Linked DNA regions of Homo sapiens. The protein of the gene in region 1 binds, or shares a complex with, the protein of each later gene. Each region holds a gene or a part of one and is shown in the gene's direction. Other genes may lie near its edges. The genes, in order: RBM48, SNRNP40, SNRPF and SNRPE.

Evidence for each region.
Region 2: RBM48 (region 1) and SNRNP40 share a complex: the UniProt entries of both Homo sapiens proteins name them as parts of the minor spliceosome.
Region 3: RBM48 (region 1) and SNRPF share a complex: the UniProt entries of both Homo sapiens proteins name them as parts of the minor spliceosome.
Region 4: RBM48 (region 1) and SNRPE share a complex: the UniProt entries of both Homo sapiens proteins name them as parts of the minor spliceosome.

The regions. Positions count from the first base shown.
Region 1 is NC_000007.14:92,524,907-92,531,829, forward strand, and holds the start of RBM48 (RNA-binding protein 48), read left to right. Parts: upstream 1-3,888; 5' UTR 3,889-3,907; coding exon 3,908-4,018; intron 4,019-4,569; coding exon 4,570-4,760; intron 4,761-6,923. Other genes in the region: peroxisomal ATPase PEX1, read right to left, coding at 3,401-3,529. UniProt on the Homo sapiens protein: As a component of the minor spliceosome, involved in the splicing of U12-type introns in pre-mRNAs.
Region 2 is NC_000001.11:31,259,067-31,265,822, reverse strand, and holds the end of SNRNP40 (U5 small nuclear ribonucleoprotein 40 kDa protein), read left to right. Parts: intron 1-4,190; coding exon 4,191-4,294; intron 4,295-5,701; coding exon 5,702-5,751; 3' UTR 5,752-6,255; downstream 6,256-6,756. UniProt on the Homo sapiens protein: Required for pre-mRNA splicing as component of the activated spliceosome. Component of the U5 small nuclear ribonucleoprotein (snRNP) complex and the U4/U6-U5 tri-snRNP complex, building blocks of the spliceosome.
Region 3 is NC_000012.12:95,861,952-95,866,675, forward strand, and holds the end of SNRPF (small nuclear ribonucleoprotein F), read left to right. Parts: intron 1-3,372; coding exon 3,373-3,437; intron 3,438-4,053; coding exon 4,054-4,120; 3' UTR 4,121-4,189; downstream 4,190-4,724. UniProt on the Homo sapiens protein: Plays a role in pre-mRNA splicing as a core component of the spliceosomal U1, U2, U4 and U5 small nuclear ribonucleoproteins (snRNPs), the building blocks of the spliceosome.
Region 4 is NC_000001.11:203,864,578-203,871,612, forward strand, and holds the end of SNRPE (small nuclear ribonucleoprotein E), read left to right. Parts: intron 1-463; coding exon 464-542; intron 543-5,299; coding exon 5,300-5,355; 3' UTR 5,356-6,575; downstream 6,576-7,035. UniProt on the Homo sapiens protein: Plays a role in pre-mRNA splicing as a core component of the spliceosomal U1, U2, U4 and U5 small nuclear ribonucleoproteins (snRNPs), the building blocks of the spliceosome.

The DNA.
Region 1 (6,923 bases):
AAATTCTACTTCATATGAAGAAACTTAAGAGATGGAAATATGAAAGATGCCCTGAAATATCAAAAAAGGAAACTCTACCAGCTCACTGAAAAAAGGAAAAATGAACCTTATTGAGGAGGAAAAATACTTCTAATTATTTATTTGGTCAAAAAGTAGTAACCAGCTCCATAAAGCCACAATATGTGCTCAGTTATATTGAGCAAACTCTGCAGACCAATGTTCTAAGTTAATTTTTATGTCAAAATACTTCACTTGAACCACAGAGCCCTGGCTATTCAGGTAAAGAGAAGAAAGAGACAGCTAGAAAGGAGCGTCTTTTCCAGGAGTCAAATCAAATCAATCAATTAATTGACCTTCTTTGACCCAAACTGAGGTATCAGTATTACCAGGAAATCTGCAGGTAAAACCATACATCAGAATGCCTTAGGAATAATCAGGTCCAAAGCCTAGGGTATCTCTTGCTAACACAAGGGAAATGAAAATTGTGTGGCCATATCCGAATGGTGATTTAGGTTCGTTTGCATTCACTGTGTATATGAATCCTCTCCCCCTGCTGCAATCACATCAAGTTCTGAGTACAGAGAAGATAACTTAGTTGAAGCGGTGGTTCTCAACCAGAGGTGATTTTGTCCTTCAGTAGACATCTGACAATGTCTGAAGACCTTTTTGGTTGTCACAGATAGGGGGAGGCAGTACAGGCGTCTACTGGATAGAGGCCAAGGGTGCTGTTAAACATCTTAAAATGTACAGGAGAGCCCCCAAAACAAAAAATTATCCAGCTCAAAATGTCAACAGTGCCAAGGTTGAGAAATCCTGACTTAAAGCATCTACTGGGTAGTCAGTCCTGAAATAATGACTTGAGTAAACAAGAGAATACAATACTTGAAACACAGTACAGAGTATATCAAATGTGATGTGTCACATAACACAACAGAGAAGTATTGAAAGGGAGACAAATGTGGGCAACAGAGAATTGGAAAGCTATGTGGAGGAGGTAGGATTATTCCTTTTTAAAGACATGGAATTTGTATGGAAGGAAGAAAAATGACTGAGGGAAGAATGGCATGAGTAAGAGAACAGAAGTGGGAAGGAGATTGGTTATAGAAGAAACAGTGAGAACGGTAGGTTGGGTGATGCAGAGTGAGCTATAGACAAGAGGGCAAATTAGCTGCATGGCAATGGTACTGGCCTAGGAATGCCAGTTTCCTTACATGTAAAAGTACAGAAACGACCTAGATGCTTAAGGTCTCTATCGTCATTAAAATTCTATGATTCTAGGACAGTAGGTCTCAACTCTTTTGTGCATCCAAGTAGCCTGAATAAATTTTTTAAAATTAGAGATGCCTAAAGCCTATTCCCTAAGATTTTAGGTCTGATTTAATAGGTCTGAGGGTTGATCAGAACATCTGTATTCTTAAAAGCTTCAAGGTAAGTCTGACATAGGCCAGAAAACCATTGTTCCAACCCTTCTTCCCATTACTGCATGATCTGTATTATGCACTCAATGCTTCACCCCAAATAAAGTAATTCAAGTATTAACTCCCAACTTGTGAATCTTTCTGCTTTCATAATTATCTATGGCCTCTAACCCAAGAATTCTGGGAATCTATCCTAGACAACCAGAAATAAAATGATGTTTTCTAAACAAAGATGTGTTATTTTCAACGTCTGATTAAAATATAGTTTATCACTTCTAATGCCTAAAAATTAAGTACAATCTAAATGGTCAATCATAGTAAACAATTAAATAAATTATGGCAAATTTGTGCTAGAATACTAATTAACAACTTAAAATGATGACCTTTTAACAAAATAAAACACTCATAATAACATTAAATAAAAACACCAGGACACAAAACTGTACGTGTGTATACAGGACCTCATTTATGTTAAAAATAAAGATTAGAAACAAAACTGGAAGATTTGATCCAAACTGTCAACATTAGTCACCTCTAAGTTCTGGGATTATGGGTAACTTATTTTCTTGTTAATAATTTTCCATGCTTTCCAAATTTTCTATAAAACATAAATTCTATAAATTTATATAATTCATCGAGGAATAAATGTATAGATTTATGGAATCTATAAAGTAATAAACTTATTACATTGATAATTAGAAAGTAAAGTTGACCTATTCTGCTAATATGGGCTGAACAGAAACAGCAATTTGTTCCAGGGCTAAAGACATTTACATTTCAAAAAGATATGCATGAATTAATTCTTATAAGTACTTCCCGAAGGCTCAAAATTTAAAACAAAGATCAAGACCACTAAATTCTTAAACAGTGATGAATGTAAGGTAACAACTACATCTTAGGATCAAATTAGAGTTACTGTAAGAAAGCATTCCTACTATTAAGTGCAGATTTGAAAACATGTTGAAAAATCCCATCGAAGCTGACAGAGCACTGAACCAACTTCTACCTGGAACTTGGTGACAGTGACTGATTTGTCTCTAGCCATAAAGCCCATCAAAAACCAAAAGATTGTCTACTTAGTGGTAAAAAATAATAACGACGATGATAGGAGGATTCTGCTGAACTCATGTTTTCAGTGGACCAAAAATATCTTCCCCTAGGTATGGGGAAGTAACTCAAGTGGAAAGAAGGGATGCTTGAAATTATTGCAAACTCTATTCATTGCATAGATTAGCCACTGGTGGGTACCATGCATCCAGGATTTATGAGGATTTCAAATACGCCGTCCTTTTGCCCCCATAAGTACACTCAAACTCGTGAGACCATGTGCCTCTATTTTTAATTATGAAAATATGGACGCTGTATCTCCACCAGTGGTTAGAACTGTGAAACATCCTAACCACAACGTCCAGAAGGGCGACTGATCGCAGAGCTTCAAGTGATCTTAACTACGTTATGTGTTCCTAACACACTACAGCTGTGTTCCGCGTCAGCGACGCAGGGCAGAACCATCATTGTATTAACCTTTCCCGCTCATGGGACGCGGTGCTTAGTCCCCGGGAACCGACAGGGGCTCCGCCAACAACTCTGCGTCCCGCTCTCGCGGCCCGGACGGCAGCAGCGCAGGTTAACTGGAAATGGCTGGCAAGGAAAACACCTTTTAAAATAATAAAAACAAACCACTTCTCAGGAGCTTTTCCAGCCTGGAATAAGGAATATTTATAAAAACAGTGGTAGAATATTAGGACGTTTCTAGGTTCAGTTTCACCAAGTGAAAAGACCTGGGATAAGACGAGCCCAGGGCTGCACTGGACTTGTGGGATCCAGAGACTACCCAGAAGGGCCCTGCCGTCGAGGGACCCTGATCTCTGCGCGCTTCGGCGGCGCCCGGGTGGCAGCCGGTGTCCCGCCGCGTCCCTGAGAGGCTTCGGCCTCGTCCGACCCCAGGCTGAAGATCAGGTGGCTCGGGGCCGGCAGGTTACCTGCAGCAGATGCAGCTGGGCCACGAGACGCCGCGGCAGGTGGAGGAAGCAGTCGCGAGCGTTGGTGAAGGCCACAGTCACTGCCGCCCCGCCTCCCCCAGCACCCGCCAGGCGATCGCTGCCCCACATCGTCCCGGAGCGTCGCTCTGGGTTCGCCCACCCTAGCGCCGCAAAGGACCCGGGACCCGGCAGGCCGAGGACGTCGGAGCCGGAGGAGATCGATCGGCCCCGCCCCCTGCGGCCCCGCCCCCTCTCCCCGCTGCGCATCCTGCCGTAAGCCTGTAGTGGGTGGGACAAGAAAGCTTCTGTCACCCACCGCGCCTCTCCGCCGAGCCGCTCGGGGGCGGCACCTCGTTCATCAAATCTTCGCACGCAGGAAACGATGGCCGACGCTGTCGATTCTCCAGCCAATCCTGGCACTCCTTAACTCATCCCGCTCTCTTATTGGATAAAAGGGAGCTCAGTAGGGCGGATGTTGTCCTCCCTGCGAGGATCAAAGTAGGCAAGATGGCGTCGAGCGGCGGGGAGCTAGGGAGTTTATTTGATCACCACGTCCAGAGGGCGGTATGCGACACACGGGCCAAATATCGAGAGGGACGACGGCCTCGTGCTGTGAAGGTAAAGTGATTTTGGTTTCATTCGCTCTCCTCGGTAGCTTTATGTGAGTGCTAGCGCCATATGACCAGCCTACGGAAATAAAGGCACGACAAGGCTTCCGTCAGATCTGTCTCTCGTTAGAGCTGGCGTGAAGAACCCTCGGTCAGTTACCAAAGATTCTCACGACGCCTTTGGTCAAGTATTAGAACATCAACTCCACGAGAATAGGCCTTGGTTTTAGTCATTGGATCTTCTGTGTTTACAGTACTACTTGGCACAGGTAAGCACTCAGTGAATATTCGTTGAGTGATTGTTCCCAGTGACTTCTACCGACTCAATTTCTGGAAAAAAATGTCGACTGAAGGTAGTCTGTTATATGCCTTAGGTAGCCTCTCACATGGACTGTTATTCTTTATGCAGAAGGAATGGCAGAAATTTCATTTTGTGTTCTTTTGCTGACTGGGTTGAACAGATTATTTCTTGTTTTCAAAGTTCTCTTTAAAAAAAAATAGAGGCAGATTCGTCCTAGGCTTATTTGCGAAATACGTTTAATAACTCTGCATTTCTTTCAGGTATATACAATCAATTTGGAATCTCAGTACTTATTAATACAAGGAGTTCCTGCTGTGGGAGTCATGAAGGAATTAGTTGAGCGATTCGCTTTATATGGTGCAATTGAACAGTACAATGCTCTAGATGAATACCCAGCAGAAGACTTTACTGAAGTTTATCTTATTAAATTTATGAACTTACAAAGTGCAAGGTAATGTGCAAGTTAAGAAATGACTCATTTCCTCATTTCTTCCATTCATATTTCTGTCATTTTGGCCCCAAGTTTCCCTCATTCATAACTGAATTACCCCAAAACGTAATCTAGCATATCTTCCTCCAGCCTTTTTAAAAGTTAACTTTACTGAAACACTGTATCCATCACATCATTCCCATGCTTAACAATTTAATGTCCTGTAGCTTGGTAGAGTAGAAGTTGGGTTTGGCCAGGCACGGTGGCTCACGCCTGCAATCCCAGCACTCTGGGAGACCGAGGTGGGCGGATCACGAGGTCAGGAGTTTGAGACCAGCCTGGCCAACATGGTGAAACCCCCCTCTCTACTAAAAATACAAAATTAGCTGGGTCTAGTGGCGCAGGCCTGTAATCCCAGCTACTCGGGAGGCTGAGGCAGGAGAATCGCTTGAAACCGGGAGGCAGAGGTTGCAGTGAGCCGAGATTGCGCCATTGCACTCCAGACAGGGCAACAAGAGGGAAGCTCTGCCTCAAAAAAAAAAAAAAAAAAAAAATTTGGGTTTGAAGCCTGGGCGTGGTGACTCACGCCTGTAATCCCAGCACTTTGGGAGACCGAGGCAGGCAGATCACTTGAGGTCAGGGGTTCAAGACAAGCCTGGCCAACATGATGGAAACCCCTCCTCTACTAAAAATACAAAAATTAGCCGGGTGTGGTGGTGCGGACCTGTAGTCCCAGCTACTCAGGTGGCTGAGGCATGGGAATTGCTTGAACCTGGGAGGTGGAGATTGCAGTGAGCAGAGATCATGCCACTGCCCTCCAGCCTAGATGACAGAGCAAGGCTCTGTCTCAAAAAAAAAAAAAAATTCTGGTTTGACGCCAGGCACGTGGCTCACACCTGTAATCCCAGCACTTTGGGAGGTCGAGGTAGGTGGATCACCTGAGGTCAGGAGTTCAAGACCAGTCTGGCCAACATGGTGAAACCCTCACTCTACTAAATACAAAAATTAGCCGGCTGTGTTGGTGCAAACCTTTAATCCCAGCTCCTGGGGAGGCTGAGGCACAAGTATCACTTGAACCCAGAAAGTGGAGGTTGCAGTGAGCCAAGATCATGCCATTGCACTCCAGCCTGGGCAAGAGTGAGACTGTCTCAAAAAAAAAAAAAGAAAAAGTTGGATTTGATCCCAGCACTTTGGAAGGCCAAGGTAGGCAGATTGCTTGAGCCCAGGAGTTCGAGACCAGACTGGCCAACATGGCCAGTATTTTGTATTTTGTAAAAATACAAAAATCAAGCTGGGTGTGTTGGTGCATTCCTGTAGTTCCAGCTACTTGGGAGGCCGAGGTAGGAGAATCAGTTGAGCCCAGGAGGTGGAGGTTGCAGTGAGTCTTATGGGCCACTACACTCCATCCTGGGTGATGGAGTGAGACTCTGTCTCAAAAGAAAAAAAAAGTTGGGTTTGGAGTAAGTTTTCCATTTCCACTGCTTACTAGCTTCATGATCTTGGGCAAGTTATTTAACCTGTTTAAGTTTTTCCTCTTCCATAAAATCTGTATGGTAAAGGGACCTATCTACTTCTTGGGGTTGTATGAGGATGAAATGAGATAATCCATATAAAGGTGTATCCTGGTCAGAATACAGTAAACATTAGCTATTGTGGTTTCTACTGTTACTCCTTTCTGCAAACTGACTCAGTTTTTTCCAGCCTTCTATGTGACATAATCCTCTGCTCCAAAAAGGCTGAAGTATGCAGTGCCTTATCTATTTTTATATTGATCTCTGTTCTCCTCACTAATCTGCTCTGAGACCCATCCTTCTCTGGCTATTACAATTCATATTTTCTTTCTTGTGCTATCAGTAGAACTCATAGTCTACCACAAAAGCACTTGATTTTACTGGGTCTTGTGTGGTTTTCTCAGGCTGCTGTTATATGTAATTTCACTTTCTTAACCAACCTGCCAGCTCCCATGGTTAGGGAAACATTTTCTAGAGCTTTTCTGTTTTCTATAGTACGTAGTCTGGTAGGCTCTGAAGTAAGACATCTGGATTTGAATCCTTGCTCCTCAAACCAGACTATGAGCATGGCTAAGTTACATAATGTCCCAGTGCTTCAGTTTCATTACAGTGTTGTTTTTAGGTGTTAATTCAAGTGAAGCGCTTATGACATTGCCTGGCATATGGTGAAATC
Region 2 (6,756 bases), on another chromosome or scaffold:
TGTCGCCCAGGCTGGAGTGCAGTGGTGCAATCTCTGCTCACTACAAGCTCCACCTCCTGGGTTTACACCATTCTCCTGCCTCAGACTCCCGAGTAGCTGGGACTACAGGTGCCCGCTACCACGCCTGGCTAGTTTTTTGTATTTTTAGTAGAGATGGAGTTTCACCGTGTTAGCCAGAATGATCTCAATCTCCTGACCTCATGATCCGCCTGCCTCGGCCTCCCAAAGTGCTGGGATTACAGTCATGAACCACTGCACCCAGCTGTAATTAAATTTTTAAATTATATTTACATACTTTTTTTTTCTGATGAGCAGTTTGTTTCTGGCATTGGCCCTTTCTGAATTGCAATGTCCTTTTTTTCTCTTTTCCTCTCCACTGTTCCTTTAAACTTTACATGTGGTCAATGGTGCACACCTTTAATCCCAACACTCTGAGAGGCTGAGGTGGAAGGATGGCTTGAACCCAAGAGTTCAAGACCAGCCTGGGCAAGATGGCAGGACCCTGTCTCTATAAAAAAAATATTTAAAAAATTAGCCAGGCATAGTAGTGTGCACCTGTAGTCCCAGCTACTTGGTAGGCTGAGGCAGAAGGACCCCATGAGCCCAGGAGTTTGAGGATATAGTGAGCTGCAATCATGCCACTGCTCTCCAGCCTGGGCAACAGAGCAAGACCCCATCTCTTTAAAAAAAAACAAAATCACATGTGAAAGCGTGGTATGAGGAAAGCCTATCCCTCTCTACCTGCTGGGGGTTGGCAAGATTTGACAGGCCACCTCACCAATTGGCCCCAAGTCAAGAAGCAGCTGTGTTACATAAGGCTTCTGGTTCCTGCCAAATGTTGCCATGCCAAAGTAAGGAGAGGGCAAGGAACCCCTCTAAATTTAGCATCTAATTGGCAGCCATCAAGAGTGAGACCTTGAAGTGTAAACCCTTGGAGATCTGGGATTCTGTCTTTTATGTGCCTGGGAAATGTATCCTCAGAAAACTCCTTTTCAGCTTGGCCTGGATTTGGCAAACTTCTCCTTTCTACTAACTAATAACTTACAGATCACCTCCTCATATTCAAACTTGAAACTCTGAATAGTCCTATAGGCTACGGGAAGGCTGACCAGTCTCTCGGCCAAGAGTGATTTATTCAGCCCATTGACTTCATGAGATTCTGTTTTGATGATGAGTGTACTTATAATAACAATAGCTATAATTAATTCTGTGTGCCAGGCACTTTGCATATATTACCTCATTATTTTTCTCAACAAAGTTATGAGATCAATATTTTCTCCATCATTGTAACTAAGAAGCTTAGAGAAGTTAAATGATCTGCAATTATTTAACTTCTCTGAGCTAAGCTTACTTAGCTAGTAAATAGCTGCACTGAGACTTGAACCCCAGTCTTTCTGACTCCAGAGCTCATACTCTTTCACTATGCCATACTGCCCTTTATTGAATTAATGAGGACCAGCTTTTTGTGCATGACAAGAAAGAAGACAGTAGGAAGGGCATGAGTATCAGAGCCATGGAGTCTAGACAGATGGAGTTCCTGCTTCTCTTCCATCTTGTTCAGAACTTACTTTCTATGGAGCCTAGCTGATGACAGCTAAATAGTATAATTAAGAAGCTCTTGTTTATTTGCATTTTTGACCAAAAGTGTAAGTTGGATTAGAACTAGGCATTTTATAATCCAGTACTGGTGAATGTACCATTTTTATGATCAAGTACTGGTGAGTTGTTGATTGCACAAAACAAAATATGTAAATAATTTTAAATACCTGCTTCAAAACTACCAGCCCTTTATATTTACCAACAGATGAATTTTACATCATCAGATTAAGATAATAGCTCTATACTTTACCCTTTAATGACTTAAGCAAGATTGAGGGTCAAAGGAACTTTTTTTTTTTTTTTTTTTTTTAGCCAGTACATTTATGGAGGGTAAGTGAAAGTAAAATACGAGAGTATATTAAGAGCTCCAGAGTCTTGGGTTCAGCTCTGTAGTTTCTGTGGCTACTGAAGAGGTGGTCAGGAACATAGGAACCCCCTGCTGGGCTCCTGGTCACTTCTGTCTGCTCCATGGCAGGAAACCTTCAGCACAGGACATCAAGGCAAGCTTGAATAAGAAAAACAATTTCTTCTTCCTAAGCCATATCATATCAGTTATACAGAAGTACTACTTTGGGACACAGTCTTCAGGAGAGCCTAGATGAGCTCATAAAATCTCAGCAGTTCACTCAACTTGCCCTTCAAGTTTTACTTCAGTTTGATAAGGCTATAAAGTCATCATTGGCTCAGAGGATTAGGAACAGAGTTGATTTCAGGGGCTCTCTAAATACATACAGATTGTGCCATATGCCACGCATGGTGGCTCATGCCCGTCATCCCAGCACTTTGGGAGGTGAAGGCAGGAGGATTGCTTGACGCGAGGAGTTCAAGACCAGCCTTAACAACATAGGAAGACACTGTCTCTACAAAAAAAAAAAAAAAAAATTAATTGAGAAAAACAAAAAGATTCTGTGATAATATGTAGACTTTTGTGAAAATTATGGCCTGTGATGATAAAAATACTGGCTCTAATACTATAGAATGAATAAGGAAAAAATCACATTTTTATGACATCTTCTGTTATTATTCATCACTTTTGAAGAGAAATGTAGAAGTTTTTTTTTATTTATTCTAGCATTGCAGAAAGTACATTGTGTTATTTCAGTATTTCAGTAGTATTTCAGTAGTATTCAGAGTATTTCAGTAGAAAGAAGCTTAAAACTCTATAGCCTCTTACATTACCTTTATTATACAGCATGAAAAAAAACATAATTTTTTTTTTCTTGAGACAGGATCTCACTCTGTCACCCAGGCTGGGGTGCAGTGGTGCCATCTCAGCTCACTGCAGCCTCTACGTGCTGGACTCAATCAGTCCTCCCACCTTGGCCTCCCAAGTAGCTGGGACCACAGGCATGCACCACTACACCTGGCTAATTTTTTTGTAGAGATGGGGTTTTACCATGTTGTCCAAGCTGGTCTCAAGCTCCTGAGCTCAAGCCTTGGCCCCCCAAAGTGCTAGGATTACAGATGTGAGCCACCATGCCCAGCCTCATAATTTTTTTTAATGACAAATAAAAATTTTGTCTTCCTAAGAACATTCTCTAATAAGCTCTTTTTTTTTGAAGAGTTCTAATTTTAGTTACGCCGTTGATGAACTGTATTGCCTTGGAAACGTCACTGTGCCCCAGTTTTCTTATCTCTAAAATAAGGAGTTTAGAGAAGCTGATTTCTTTTTTCTCCTCTTTTTTTTTTTTTTTTTTTTTTTGGAGATGGAGTCTCACTCTGTCACCCAGGCTAGAGGGCAGTGCCACGGTCTCAGCTCACTGCAACCTCCACCTCCCAGGTTCAGGCAATTCTCCTGCCTCAGCCTCCCGAGTAGTTGGGATTACAGGCACACGCTACCACTCCTGGCTAATTTTTTGTATTTTTAGTAGAGACTGGGTTTCACCTTGTTGGCCAGGCTGGTCTCAAACTCCAGACCTAAGACGATCCACGCACCTCGGCCTCCCAAAGTGTTGGGAGTACAGGCATGAGCCACCACTCCCAGCCTAGACAAGCTGATTTCTCTTGGCCCCTTCCCATTCTAGAATTCAGTATTCCTTCTGCCTGTTAATTCAATGGAAAAGTTGGCTCAAGTGAGTATTAGGTTAGCAAACACTATAAATATTTTATATACCAGACACTTCCTGTCCCTTCTCAGGTCTCTGTTTGAATACAGTACTAAAAAGTTCATCTGGATCAGCAGCCTAGGCTCCCACCCTGCCATGAGTTGGGTTACCTTTTAGATTTCCTGGATGAGTATGAAGTTAACTGTAGCCTAATTATACTAGACACTCTGAAAAAGGTTTTTGTGTGATGTCTGCAGGAAAAACTTTCTTTTCTTCCCTGTGGTGTTTCCCATTTCAGAAGCTTGTATTCAAACATGCCAGTCATGCTTATATTTTTAGTTATTCTTATTTCTCCACCCCATTGCTCAAGAGGTGAGTCCATGTCTTATTCAAACTCTGTGTTCCTAGTTTCTAAAAGCCAGAACATGGTTCAGTAAATGTAAGGTAAGTAAATAATTGTTGCTTCCATTTCCTTTAAAAAGCCATGCCTCTGTCCTACCCCCAGCTCTAAGAGGACTTACCCTTGCTTTTCATGATACCTTACAGGTTTGTTTATGTGTGGGATACCACAAGCAGGAGAATATTGTATAAGCTGCCCGGCCATGCTGGCTCCATCAATGAAGTGGCTTTCCACCCTGATGAGCCCATCAGTAAGTCTGTCCCAACGAGGGGGAAAGGGAAACTGGAAATCTCCCCGTAGGGATCCTGGGAATAGAGAGTCAAAAGCGGGTATCTGTTTTATACGAATTTCCATGCAAACAGCCTTTGGGTGTTTTTGTTGTTGTTGTTGTTGGTTTTTTTGTTGTTGGGTTTTGTTTTGTTTTGTTTTTGAGACAGTGTCTCGCTGTTTTGCCCAGGTTGGAGCAATGGTGCAATCTTGGCTCACTGCAACCTCTGCCTCCTGGGTTCAAGCAGTTCTCCTGCCTCAGCCTCCCAAGCAGCTGGGATTACAGGCACCCACCACCATGCCCAGCTAATTTTTTTTTTTTTTTGTATTTTTAGTAGAGACGGGGTTTCACCGCATTGGTCAGGGTGGTCACGAACTCCTGACGTCCAGTAATCCACCCGCCTCAGCCTCCCAAAGTGCTGGGATTACAGGTGTGAGCCACTGTGCCCAGCTGCAAACAGTCTTTATGTGGGTATCAATGTCAGTCTCACCATTGCTCATAAGTGGTGAGAGTAAGAGCAATGCTCCATTTTCTTCTTGATCTCAAAGGGAAGTTGGTAAGTCTAATTTTTTTTTAAATTTACTTCCATCAAGTCTGTTTCAATGATGTATTTGATTAAAAGAAAGATACTTTTTTTTTTTTTTTTTGAGACAGAGTCTCACTCTTGTCGCCCAGGCTGGAGTGCAGTGGCACGATCTCGGCTCACTGCAACCTCTGCCTTCCCAGGTTCAAGCGATTCTCCTGCCTCAGCCTCCCAAGTAGCTGGGACTACAGGCACCCACCACCACACCTGCCTAATTTTTGTGTTTTTAGTAGAGACGAGGTTTCACCATGTTGGCCAGGCTGGTCTCAAACTCCTGACCTCTGGTAATCCACCCGCCTCAGCTTCCCAAAGTGCTGGGATTACAGATGTGAGCCACTGCGCCCGGCCAAGAATGATACTTTTTAATATTTAGATATAAATTTCAGCTTAAAATTTTTTGGCTGGCTAAACCAAATAATTTCAGCCTTGAATTAAAGGAGAAACTGTAACTTTCTCCAGGGCTAAGTATAACAAGCAGAAGCACATTTACAAAATGACTGGCACAGCCATAGATTCCTCTCTTCTAGAATGACTGGGAAAGTCTTTTTCTTGGGGTTTGACTGACAAGGGATGTCAGTATTTAGTGTCTGATAATGTATTTCCCATAGTACAGTCATCCTCATGATATTAGAGGACTTGGATTGAAAAGCCAGGCTACAATTTCCTGTGGATGGTGTTTAGGAGGGGAATTTAAGCTAAGTCCAATTGCTCTTTTATACCAGAATTGGCTCTTGACACAAGAGCCCTTGAGCACCAAGTCTCCTTGAGCCTTCATTATTTCTAGTTATCTGTTCTTTTTACCTCAGTTATCTCAGCATCGAGTGACAAGAGACTGTATATGGGAGAGATTCAGTGAAGATATGGACTGGAAGACTCCAAGGCCGCTTGTCTTTGAGACCTCAGACTGCATAAGTGATGCCAAATGTTGGATGTCCAGGCTAGCACCCTCCCTTCAGATGACCATTGCTAGCAAGAAACAGGAGGCGGTGGCCATATTCCAAAAACCACTTCTGTCCCATTTCACCAGGATGACTAAGGCAAGCTCCCTGTGGCCTCTAAAAACCACCTGCCAGATTTCAGGGACTGTTTTTTTTTTTCTTTTTCTTTTTTCCTGTTTTCTAATGCAGGCCCAATGTGACAAATTTGTTGGTTGGGATTTTTTTTTTTTTTTTGTAACTGGCTTGTATGATATTTTCTTTCTGTATTTCTCTATATCATTTTGTATTAAAAGCCAAATAGATGCCTTTTTACAAGAGCCATGTGGATTGGATTTATTGCTGTCTTTTTTTTGAGGCTTGATTGCTATAAATCAGAATAGAGCATGATGTGGCCACAGAATACAATTCATTTAAACTTCCAAGAAGCTGCTCACTTGTTTTTTTTTCCCCCCTTTTCTGTGTTTTTAGGTTTACTTACTTCCATGAAAATGACAAAGAATAATTATCAGTAACAATACTTTTTTCCTACTAGAAGGATAGCAGCCAGGAGGTGATAAATAAGTTCTAAAAGAACCTGGTTTTGCCAGACGCGGTGGCTCATGCCTGTAATCCCAGCACTTTGGGAGGCCAAGGCAGGCGGATCACCTGAGGTCGGGAGTTCAAGACCAGCCTGGCCAACATGATGAAACCCCGTCTCTACTAAAAACACAAAAATTAGCTGGGTGTGGTGATGCACATCTGTAATCCCAGCTACTCGGGAGGCTGAGGCAAGAGACTCACTTGAACCTGGGAGGCGGAGGTTGCAGTGAGCTGAGATTGCGCCACTGTACTCCAGCCTGGGCGACAGAGCAAGACTCTGTCTCAAAAAAAAAAAAAAAAAAGAACCTGGTTTTGTGTACTTGCATCTGATCTTTAATGAACAG
Region 3 (4,724 bases), on another chromosome or scaffold:
AAATTTTTTGCCCATTAAACAATAATTTTCCATTAAACAATAATTTTACAATTAAACATTAAACAATAATTTTCCATTCCTTCCTCCACCTAACTAACCCCTGGTAACCACTAGTCTACATGTCTATGAATTTGACCGTGCATAATACCTCATGTAAGTGGAATTGTGTATTATCCTTTTGTGTCTGGCTTGTTTGACTTAACGTAGTGTATTATTCAAGGTTCATCCATGTTGTAGCATGTGTCAGAATTTCCTTTTTATGACTGAATAATATTCCATTATATGGATATACCACATTCTAATCCATTTGCCTCTTGGTGGACACTGGGTTGCTTCCCTCTTTGGACTGTAGTAAATAATGCTGCTGTGAACATGGGTATACGAATGTCTGTTCCAGTCACTGCTTTCAGCTCTTTGGGGTATATACCCAGAAGTGGAATTACTGGATTACTGGTAATTCTATGTTTAATTTTTTAAGGAGGCCAAGCGTGGTGGCTCATGCCTGTAATCCCAGCACTTTGGGAGGCTGAGGCAGCAGATTGCTTGAGCCCAGGAGTTTGAGACCAGCCTGGGCAACATAGTGAAACTGCATCTCTACAAAAAAAATACAAAAACTAGCTAGGCATGATGGTGTGGGCAGCTATATTCCCAGCTACTCAGGAAGCTGAGTTGGGAGGATTACCTGAGCCTGGGGAGGTTGAAGCTGCAGTGAGCTGTGATCACTGCACTCTAGCCTGGATGACAGAGAAATTTTTTTTTTTCTTTTGAGTAACTGTCACACTATTTTCCACAGCAGCTACGTGGTTTTACATACCCACCAGCAATGCACAACGGTTCCAGTTTCTCCACATCCTCACCAACACTTGTTATTTTCTATGGGTGTTTATAAAATAGTTATTCTAATGGGTGTGAAGTGGTATCTTATTGTGGTTTTGATTTGCATTTGGCTAATGATGTTGAGCACCTTTTCATGTGTTTATTGGCCATTTGTTTATCTTTGGAGAAATGCCTGTTCATGTCTTTTGCACATTTAAAAAATTAGTTTGGGATTTTTTGTTGTTTTTTTAATGGTAGTAGTTTCCAGGCAGGTTTTTAAAGGCTATCAAGACAGGTGGTCAATCCAATCATGAATCCAAGGATTCCATACTTGTAAGCAGAGTACTAAAAGGAGTACTTAAGTAGGCAGAGAGCTATGATTTTCCTTAACTTAGGCAATTACCACCTGAGCACATGACATTAAGGCCCCCAAAGCATAGTTTGAGTGTGGAAAATTCCTTAAACAGGAGTCATTTACCAAGACCATAGAAAAATCTGGGAAGTATATGAATTGTGATGAAAATATTCTGGAAGTAGTGGTGATAGTTGCACAGGTTTTTGAATATACTGAAAACCACTGAATTGTACACTTTAAAAGGGTGAATTTTATGCTATGGAAATTAACATCTCAATAATAAAAGAATTACCACTTAATATTTGTTTTAGAATTAATATAGCTTGCTAGTGACCCTGCTAGAGTTGCAAAATGTCTGAGTAACCAACCACTTTGAGTAGTCAACCATATTGATACCAGTGTTTGAATTTGTTCACTCAGCAAATATTTATTGAATTCCATTATGTGCCTGGCACTGTGAATATAGCATTGAACAAAACAAAGTCCCTGCCCTCAACAGTTTATGGTTTAGTGGTGGGAGGTGGTAATATAATGTGATAATAGGCATGATAGATGCCATCCATGAAGAAAAGGGGGAAGACAGTATGTGCAATATTATATAGAGTAGCCTCTCTGAGGAGGCGAATTCTGGAAGATACCAGAATTAGTGTACAACTCAGTTGAGTATCTGGGGAAAAGCATCCCAGTTTGAGGGAACAGCAAGTACAAAGGCCCTGTGGCAGAAGCATGCTTGGTGTGTTCAAGGCACAGCAAAAAGGCCAGAGCAGATTGAGTTAAGGGACGAATGACAGAAAGTTAGGTTAAAATGGCGGCCATAGAGAGCCTGTTAAGTGATGGTGAAGAACATGATAGAAAGTATTTGGAACATTATTGTGTAATTTAGAAATGTTAAATGTTGTAATTACTTTTTACAAAAAATTAGTTGCTCTTAATACATTATTTCTTATAGCTGTTACATACAAACTGTCTCAACAACCTCGTATATTTCAGACAAAACTATATCATCTGGATAATGGAGATTACTTTTTGTTGTCTATAAGAAAGGGAGTAACATCCAGTAGTAGTGTTCATTACCATGTTTTTCATGCCTTATGAAACATCCTATTTTAATCCTTATTGTTAAGCCCTATTTTTCTTTTCCTTTTCCACGTGCCTAATTGTGAAGGAAACCTCCCTCTCTCCCATCACTCCTTAGTTCCTTCTCTGAGTCCCAAGTGGCATTGATTGTGATTTTTCTTTTAATTACAAGTAGAGCTTGTTACCTATATGTAGAAGGAAAGCTAAACATTTTGATATAAAATTAGAAATAATTCACCAAAATAACTGTAGGTAAAGTAAGAAGAGCTCAGACATTCGATTCATAATAATACCATAAGGGAAACACACTACTTTGCTGTAGTTCACCAAAATAGCTGTAAAGGTCACTGTTAACTATTTACCTTTCTCTTAAGAACTTGTTTTTCCCTGTTTATTAGTACATAATTAAAAATTCTTATTCAGGCCCAGATGTGATAGCTTATGCCTGTAATCCCAGCACTTTGGGAGGCCAAGGCAGGAGGATCACTTGAAGGCAGAAATTCAAGACCAGCTTGGGCAATATAGCAAGATCTCATCTCTACAGAAAAAATTGTTTCGAAGTAGCCAGGCTTTGTGGCACATGCCTTTAGTCCTAGCTGCTCAGGAGATTGAGGCAGGAGGAGCCCAGGTGTTCAAGGTTTTGGTCAGCTATGATTGTGCCACTGCATTCCAGCCTGGGCAACAGAGGGAGACCCTGTTTCTTAAAAGACAGGAAAAGAAGAAAATTCTTACTCAATTATTTGCTTTGGTTGTTGACTAATATAAAAGTATTTGGCATGTTAGCCATAGCTTTCGTATACCTATTTGGACACCTCAATATGAGTTAGAGACTGCCTTCTTCCACACACTGTTTTAATATCTAATAGAAAGAAATATTACATAACCTGGGAGATTCAGAAACTTATGTTGAAACAAGCTTTGAATATTAATTTCGTTGAAGGTTTATATGAAACCAAAAGTACTACAATAGTAATAGAAAGCTCATCTTCTGTTTATTAATTATAGATAAATTTGAGTTGTTGGTATAGAAAGGTCTCAGTTAATGAGTTCTCTCACCAATATTAGCTGTATTGTAATATTTTCCTCCTGTGTGATTATACTAATATATTTCTTTTTATTGAAAGCTTGCAAATACAGAAGAATACATAGATGGAGCTTTGTCTGGACATCTGGGTGAAGTTTTAATAAGGTAACAAACAGCAGTAGTATATGTAAGGAGTTACTGGTGAGCATTAGGAATACCTGTTCTAAATATATTAGTGCCTCAATTTTGGAATTACTTTTTTTTAAAAAATCACTATTATAATACTTTACAGTTAGACTTCAGAAGTCTTTGAAATTGTTAAACTTGTCAAAGGTAAGTTTTCAAATGTTTTGGAACTGGCCAAAAGATTTTTCTAGTGTTGATGTTTAATTTTCTAGCTCTTAGCTATAATCTTTTGCAGTGGCAACCTTTTGCAGTGGCCTTTGTTGCGGGAACTTAGTTTTGAATTTTAGTTGGGTCTGGCTGTTTTGTTATATTGATTTTCTGTACTAGCTTCAAAGCTCCAAATTCTGGTAATTATTTCCTTTGGAAAATCATAAAGATGTCATTTTATAACAACCATATGGTGGAAAATAAGTGCCATGTGCTTTTCAACAAATCTATGTGAAACTTTTTTTTAAAATGAATATATTTAAAAAATTTTTTTAAAGACAAGAATATTATAAATATAGTATTCAGTATTTTCATAATAAAAATATAGTAATTCATATCATACATGGTTTCTGGTTGGAACAACAAAATCGACTTTTTCTATTTACAGGTGTAATAATGTCCTTTATATCAGAGGTGTGGAAGAAGAGGAAGAAGATGGGGAAATGAGAGAATAGCATCTTTTGTGGGGGATTTTTTTTATATATATTTCTAGACAATAAAGATTTGTTTGTTTTTCAACTTGACTTGTGAACTATTTGTATTCAGATATTTACAAGCAAAGCTGAAATGATGAACCAATTGGGAAAGATTACTCACTGAACTAATGCTTTAAAAGCCACTGAATTTCATTTAAGTTGCTTTTCTTTTGTAAGCCCAATATTCTTTTTTTTCCCATAAAGGATAATTATTTATATGCTTTAGATATTTTTATGAAGGTGAATTTCAGACCTTTTCTTGTAAAATTATCTATTAGCTGAGACCTTTTAAATGCAACTTTTTCTTTTAAAGTTATTTTTGAGCTACTTTTAACGTATAAAATTAAACATTTTCTTGGTATTAATAATATACTGTCTTATTTTACTTAGTAGTCAATAAATTACATGTTAATTCTGTGTCAATATAAGCTAAATGCACATATTGCAGCTAAAATTGAAGCATCTTCTAAAAATTAAAATGATTGTACAGACAGGGCACAACAGAAATTGGGAACTGACATTCAGGCTGAAGGCATACGGTTTGTTCACTGAAGAGAAAAAAGTTCTCTGAACAAAATGTAAT
Region 4 (7,035 bases), on another chromosome or scaffold:
CTAATTTTTAAATATTTTGCTGGGCAAGGTGGCTCACGCCTGTAATCCTAGCACTTAGGGAGGCCGAGCATGATGAATCACTTTAGCTCCAGAGTTCGAGACCAGCCTGGGCAACATGATGAAACCCTGTTTCTACCAAAAATACAAAAAGTAGCCAGGCATGGTGGTGCGCCCTGTAGTTCCAGCTACTTGGGGGGAGCTGAGGCAGAAGAATTGCTTGAACCCAGGAGGTCCAGCTGCAGTAAGCCGAGGTTGCACCACTGCACTCTAGCCTGGAAGACAAAGTGAGATCCTTTCTCAAAAAAAAAAAAAAAAAAAAAAAAACTTTGGGTGGAAGGTGGGGTGGGGCTTGAGAAGAGTGAATCTTTGAAGTTAGTTGGAGTTTTTATCTGCATAGGTATACTCATTTAAAATGGTTTGAATGTGATTTTCTTTGAAGATAACAGTTTGTTTATTTTTCTAGGGTTTTGATGAGTATATGAACCTTGTATTAGATGATGCAGAAGAGATTCATTCTAAAACAAAGTCAAGAAAACAACTGGGTAAGGATAGAAGTGGTCTTACAGAATTCTAGAAATATTTTATTCACTTGCAGAATTCAGTGACCTGCAACTCAGTTCATGTTTGAATTTATTTTGCATTTGAGAAGTTATTATTCAGAGTAGTAGTACACTTTTGAAATCATCCTCTACTACTCACTCCTCACCACACTCCATTTTGGCTTCTCCACCCAGAGAGCTCTCACCAAGGGAACCAAAGACTAGTGGTATTAAATCTAATGATCAGTACTAATCCTCATTTTATTAAACTCTCAACAGCATTTGGCACTGTTGGCTGCTCCCTCCTTAAAGCGCTTTGTTCCCGTGTCTGAGTGGCAGGAAAAACCCAAGTAGATTTTTCTGTTTCCTCAGTTGACAATAATTAACACAGAAGACTTCTGTGACCAGATGTATGGGCATATTTCCCCACACACCAAGCAAGCAATCAGTTCGGCAGTGGACATCAGCTCAGAGTCGTCAAGTTCAGTTCAGTTCTAACACTATCTACCTGAGATAGCGTCAGTTCCCAGAGGTTGAGGGCTCAATCCCCAAGATTGCCTTCCATGCCCCTCAGTCCTCCACCAGATGCTAATTGTCAGCTCCAGATTGTTTTACCTGTGCTTCTTACTGACTGGCTATAAACTGGGTCCCATGACCCCTCCGTTGGTTTGATTAATTTGCTAGAGCAGCTCACAGAACTCGGGGAAACACTTGTATTTACTGGTCTGTTATAAAGGATATTACAAAAAGTACAGATGAAGAGATGCGTAGGGCAAGGCATATAGGAAGGGATGCGAAGCTTTTGTGCCCTCTGCAAGCTCACCACTCTGGGAACCTCCACATGTTGAGCTATCAGAACCCCATTGTTTTCAGTTTTTATGTAAGCTTCATTATGTAGGCATGACTGATTAAATTGGCCGTTGGTGATCAGCTTAACCTTCAGCTCCTTTCCTCCTCCCCGGGTGGGAGGGTGGGGCTGAAAGTCCGACATCACTAATGCCTTGGTCCTTTCAGTGAGCAGCTCCCATGCTGAAACGTTGTAGGGGCTGCTGGCCATCAGTCAATCATTAGCATACAAAAAGGCAACATCTTAGAGATTCTAAGGATTTTAGGAGTTGTATGGGATTGAAGACCAAGTAAATATTTTGCAGTATCACACCTTGGCTCTACGATATTATACTTGGGTTTTTATTTTTCACTTCTGGCTATTTTTCAGACTTATATATTCATTCTTGGGACCCAATCACTAAATGAGTTGCTCCAGGCTTGGTTCTAGGCCCTCCTGTCATTCAGTATTGTCTGCCTAGGCACTGGAGTACAGCTTCAGTTACCATCTATAAATACTGACTCCCAAATTTGTTTGTCTGGGCCTATTCACCATTTCTACTTGAATGTTTCAAAGGCTTCTTAAAGTCAGCATATCAGAAAGCAAACTCAATTCCAACTCACACTGTTTAGAGCTATTGTATTATTATTTCCTGCCTTATTGAATGGCACCAGTTTCCAGTTCAGCTTACTAATTGATTTCTCTGCAGCTACCTCCAGTTTGCTTTCCAGGCCTCACTCATCTTTTAAAAACACCAGTCTGAACATATGTCATCCCTTTGCTTGAAATACTGCAATGACTTCCTGTTGCTGTTAGGATAAAAAAAAATCTAATGATTCTGCAAATCTAATGATCTTCATGATCTAGTCTTATCTCCCTCTGCTCATCTCGTATCACTGCCTCACTTTCTGAGCTTTAGCAACACTTGTCTTATTTCAGTTCTTTGAATCTGCAGATTTGCCCAACCATTAATCTTTGTATATGATATTCCTTGTGTCTGTAGAGCTCAGATCAAATATCACTTCTTTTAAGACAGCGGTCCCCTAGGCCAGGTGCAGTGGCTCACACCTGTAATCCCAGCACTTTGGGAGGCCGAGGCGGGTGGATTACGAGGTCAGGAATTCAAGACCATCCTGGCTAACATGGTGAAACCCTGTCTTTCCTGAAAAAAAAAAAAAAAAAAAAAAATTAGCTGGGCATGGTGGCGGGTGCCTGTAGTTCCAGCTACTCGGGAGGCTGAGGCAGGAGAATGGCGCGAACCTGGGAGGCGGAGCTTGCAGTGAGCTGAGATCACGCCACTGCGCTCCAGCCTGGGCGACACAGCGAGACTCTGTCTCAAAAAAAAAAAAAAAAACAGTGGTCCCCAACCATTTTGGCACCAGGGACCGGTTTTGTGGAAGACAATTTTTCTGTGGACTGGGGTGTGGGGGATGGCTTTCGGATGATTCAGGCACATTACATTTATAGTGCACTTTATTATTATTACATTGTAATATATAATGAAATAATTATACAACTCACCATCATGTAGAATCAGTGGGAGCCCTGAGCCTGTTTTCCCACAACTAGACAGTCCCATCTGGGGGTGATGGGAGACAGTGACAGATCATCAGGCATTAGGTTCTCATAAGGAGTGCGCAACCTAGATCCCTCTTTGCCCGGTTCACAATAGGTTTTGCGCTCCTATGAGAATCTAAGGCTTCCACTGATATGACAGGAGGCAGAGCCCAGGCGGGAATACTAGTGATGGGGAGTGGCTGTAAATACAGATGAAGCTCCGCCACCTCGCCCACTGCTCACCTCTTGCTGTGTGACCCAGTTTCTAACAGGGACCAGGACTGGTACTGGTCTGTGGCCCAGGGGTTAGGAAGCCCTGCTCTAAAAAGTTCAAAGTTTAATTTGGTTTTGCTGGGGATGGGGGAAGGCGGGATTATGTGCTCCCTGAGTTTGTAGTAAAACCTTTATTATTGAAATTATTTTATTAGTGTCTCTCCTGTTATCAGATGCTTCACCGTAAGTGTATGAGTCATGCCTTTTTTGATCCCAGTGTGCTCAGTACCTAACTCAATGCCTGGCACATAATAGAAACTAAAAAATATTTGAACAATGAATGGTATTTCTTTCTTTTGTTTTTGGAGACAGAGTCTCTGTCGCTCAGGCTGGAGTGTAATGACGTGATTTTGGCTCACTGCAACCTCTGCCTCCCAGGTTCAAGCAATTCTCCTGCCTTAGACTCCCAAGTAGCTGGGACTACAGGCGTGTACCACCACGCCTGGCTGATTTTTTGTGTTTTAGTAGAGACGGGGTTTCACTGTGTTGCCCAGGCTGGTCTCTAACTTCTGAGCTCAGGCAATCCACCTGCCTCGGCCTCCCAAATGCTGGGATTACATGTGTGAGCCACTAAGCCTGGCAATGAATGGTATTTCTTAACCCAGTTAATGAATGGTCTTAGGATTCACGGTTTCATCAAGACACACTGAATCATTTCTGTTAACATCCCATTCACTTGAGGTTTATTTAGGCATTTTGTCTTTATTTGTTAAATGCTCACTAATACTTTTATCAGTGGTGGGTTTCAGGTGTCTCTCTTTCAGACCCTCAGGATTCTCTTCAACCTGAACTAGATATATGGAAAGTAGATTCTGAGAAGCAGTATGGTGTTTCGCTGGCTGCTTCCTGCTTAGACTATTTTTATGAAAGCCTGGGTTTTTTAGATTTATTGTTATTTATTTATTTATTTTTTTGGAGACGGAGTCTCACTCTGTCTCCCAGGCTTGAGTGCCATGGCACAATCTCAGCTCACTGCAACCTCCACCTCCTGGGTTCAAGCGATTCTCCTGCCTCAGCCTCCCAAGTAACTGGGATTACAGGGCATGCCACCACACCTGGCTAATTTTTTGTATTTTAGTAGAAGACGGGGTGTCACCGTGTTGTCCAGGCTGGTCTCGAATCCTAAGCTCAGGCATTCCACCCACCTTGGCCTCCCAAAGTGCTGGGATTATAGGTGTGAGCCACCATACCCAGCCGGGTTTTTTAGATTTAAAGATGTCTTGCCAGGACGGGCAAGCTTAGCCTTACTGAGGTCATATTATTCATAAATTATTTACCAACTGTTGAATTCCCATGGTAGTATTTATCCTGTAGAATAGAATGTTATTAATACCTGCAGAAGCCTGGGAAAGTAGAACAGTTTAATTACTGTTGGAGTTGATCAACGTGTCTCAAACCGTTCTACCAGTGAACACCAGTGTTCCTGAAGATGTTTATAAATTTCTCAGAAAAGTATTGTCTTAAATAACCTTAGGAAATTTTGGGTAAAACAGGTTTGTTTATTGTAGGATGGAGTCTTTTTTTTTTTTTTTTTTTTTTTTTTTTTTTTTTGGAGATGAATTTTGCTCTTGTTGCCCAGGCTGGAGTGCAATGGTGCCATCTTGGCTCACTGCAACCTCCGCCTCCCGGATTCAAGCAATTCTCCTGCCTCAGCCTCCCAAGTAGCTGGGATTACAGGCACGCGCCACCAGGCTCTGCTAATTTTGTATTTTTAGTAGAGATAGGGTGGAGTCTTTAATATACTAACAGCTTTAAGAATGGAGTTATAATATGCTGTATTTCCCAAACTTGACATACGACTCATTTCCAAACTTTTATTACAAATTCAGCATTGGGAAATGTTGTATGAGGCCTATTGAGTTGACTTAGTCCATAGAAATGATATTTGTCATGAAATGTCATCTACCTATGTTAGTCTCTTGAAAAGATAAATGTATTCTAATGGAGCCAGAAAGCCTTTCACTATATGGACACTTGAAAATGTTCACATATTTTTATAAGAAAGCATTTTCAAAATATTGTTCAAAAACTGGATACAAAATTCTGAGAGTAAAACATCTGAGTGTGTGGCTATTAATAGCTTTTTGTTGTTTTTGTGTTGCAGGTCGGATCATGCTAAAAGGAGATAATATTACTCTGCTACAAAGTGTCTCCAACTAGAAATGATCAATGAAGTGAGAAATTGTTGAGAAGGATACAGTTTGTTTTTAGATGTCCTTTGTCCAATGTGAACATTTATTCATATTGTTTTGATTACCCTCGTGTTACTACAAGATGGCAATAAATACTATGGGATTGTTTGTATTAAAAAATTTACATTGCTTCTTACTATTCAGCAGTAGAAACTTTTTACACAGTAACACCATTCGTTGCTGGTATTTAGTTTTCTGAAGGGTCGCAGTTGCCTTGAGCACTTGGTATTCGCAGAGCTTGGACCTGTAGATTTTGAGGCAGATTAGGAATTCTGCCTGATGGGTAAGCTTCCAGTATTGGGAGGTGGAGAAGGGGAGGGTTCAGAAAAATAAATAAGAGTTATTGCACTAACAAAAGTCTTCATCACTTGTAGTTCTGGATGCTGGAATACCAGAGTTTCTAACCTAAATATGTTGGGTACATTATTTAATGGGGTCAGTATTGCTCAACACTCTCATTGAGTCACTGTGAGGTCTTTGTGAATTTTATCGCTAAGATCAGAATGTGAGAAGTATTTGGATATAGGGAAAGAATGAAGTGCCTTTCAAGTACATTAAAAATCAGTTAAGAGTTTACAGGAAAGAGACTGAGATTGGTAATCTGAAAAGGACCACAAGCATAGCTGGTAGGCAAATTGTTAGGCAGAATAATGGTATGTTGGAGAAATACACCTGTCTCTTATTCTTATCTCTTAAGAATTTTGGTTCTTCCCCCAGTGATTGCTGGTTGAATTCTTATATGGACAGGTTTCCCTTCCCCCAGTATCGCACATGGTTCTAGTTAGAATCCTGTTAGATAGTGAGCATCTGCTGTTAGCTAGACACTGTTGAATCAATACAGTGAAACAGACAGGTAAGCAGGTGGTTTTAATGCCTCATTCTAAGTGCTATTTAAATTGGATCTTGAAAGATGAATAAGGCCTGCCTTAAGTTCTGCTAAAGGCCATGTTGTTATTAAGGACGGGTGAGGAAGGACCAAGAAGTCTGGCTCCTGCTTTTCTACATGCCTGTGAAGGAGACTTTTCATGAAACTGAATAAAAGAAATCCTTTCCGAGATAGAGGAGATTTGTAGGTGAATGCAGAAGTGTATCCAGCTTTGAACCATGCATTCCATCTATATTCCTCCTGTCTGAACTCATGCTCTTTTGATTATGTTTTGAAATAAAGGGCTGCATTAGTTCTTTTAACATTTGAGTTTGAAATTAATTAAACTGATCACAACATGCAAAGAAAACATTGGGCAGCAGAGGGAGTTACAGCCCTGAGACTGCTTCAGCCCTGCTGGTGAGAAGATTGAATTGAAGCTTTTTCAGAGCAGAGCAAAGACCTCCCTGCAGCTTTCTTGGCACCAGAATAGCTGGGAAGAAGGATAAAAGCCCAGAGGAGTATAATCTCTAAGAAAACCTGCTGGCTGCCTTTTCCATTTCCCTGTGTGGCCTTTCTGACCTGGCTGCCCTGTGGAAGCAGAGCTGTGCCTGCTGTGGCTTATTCTGAATGGATCAAGACATGGAAGGTTCTATTTTTGACAGAGCAAATGATGATAGTGAGAATTAAGGTACAGTGAACTCTTACAATTGAGCTCTGTATTTAGAAATCTCTGCTTGCTTTCCTGCTCTACTGGAGCCTGTGGTGTTTGCTTTTTAAGTT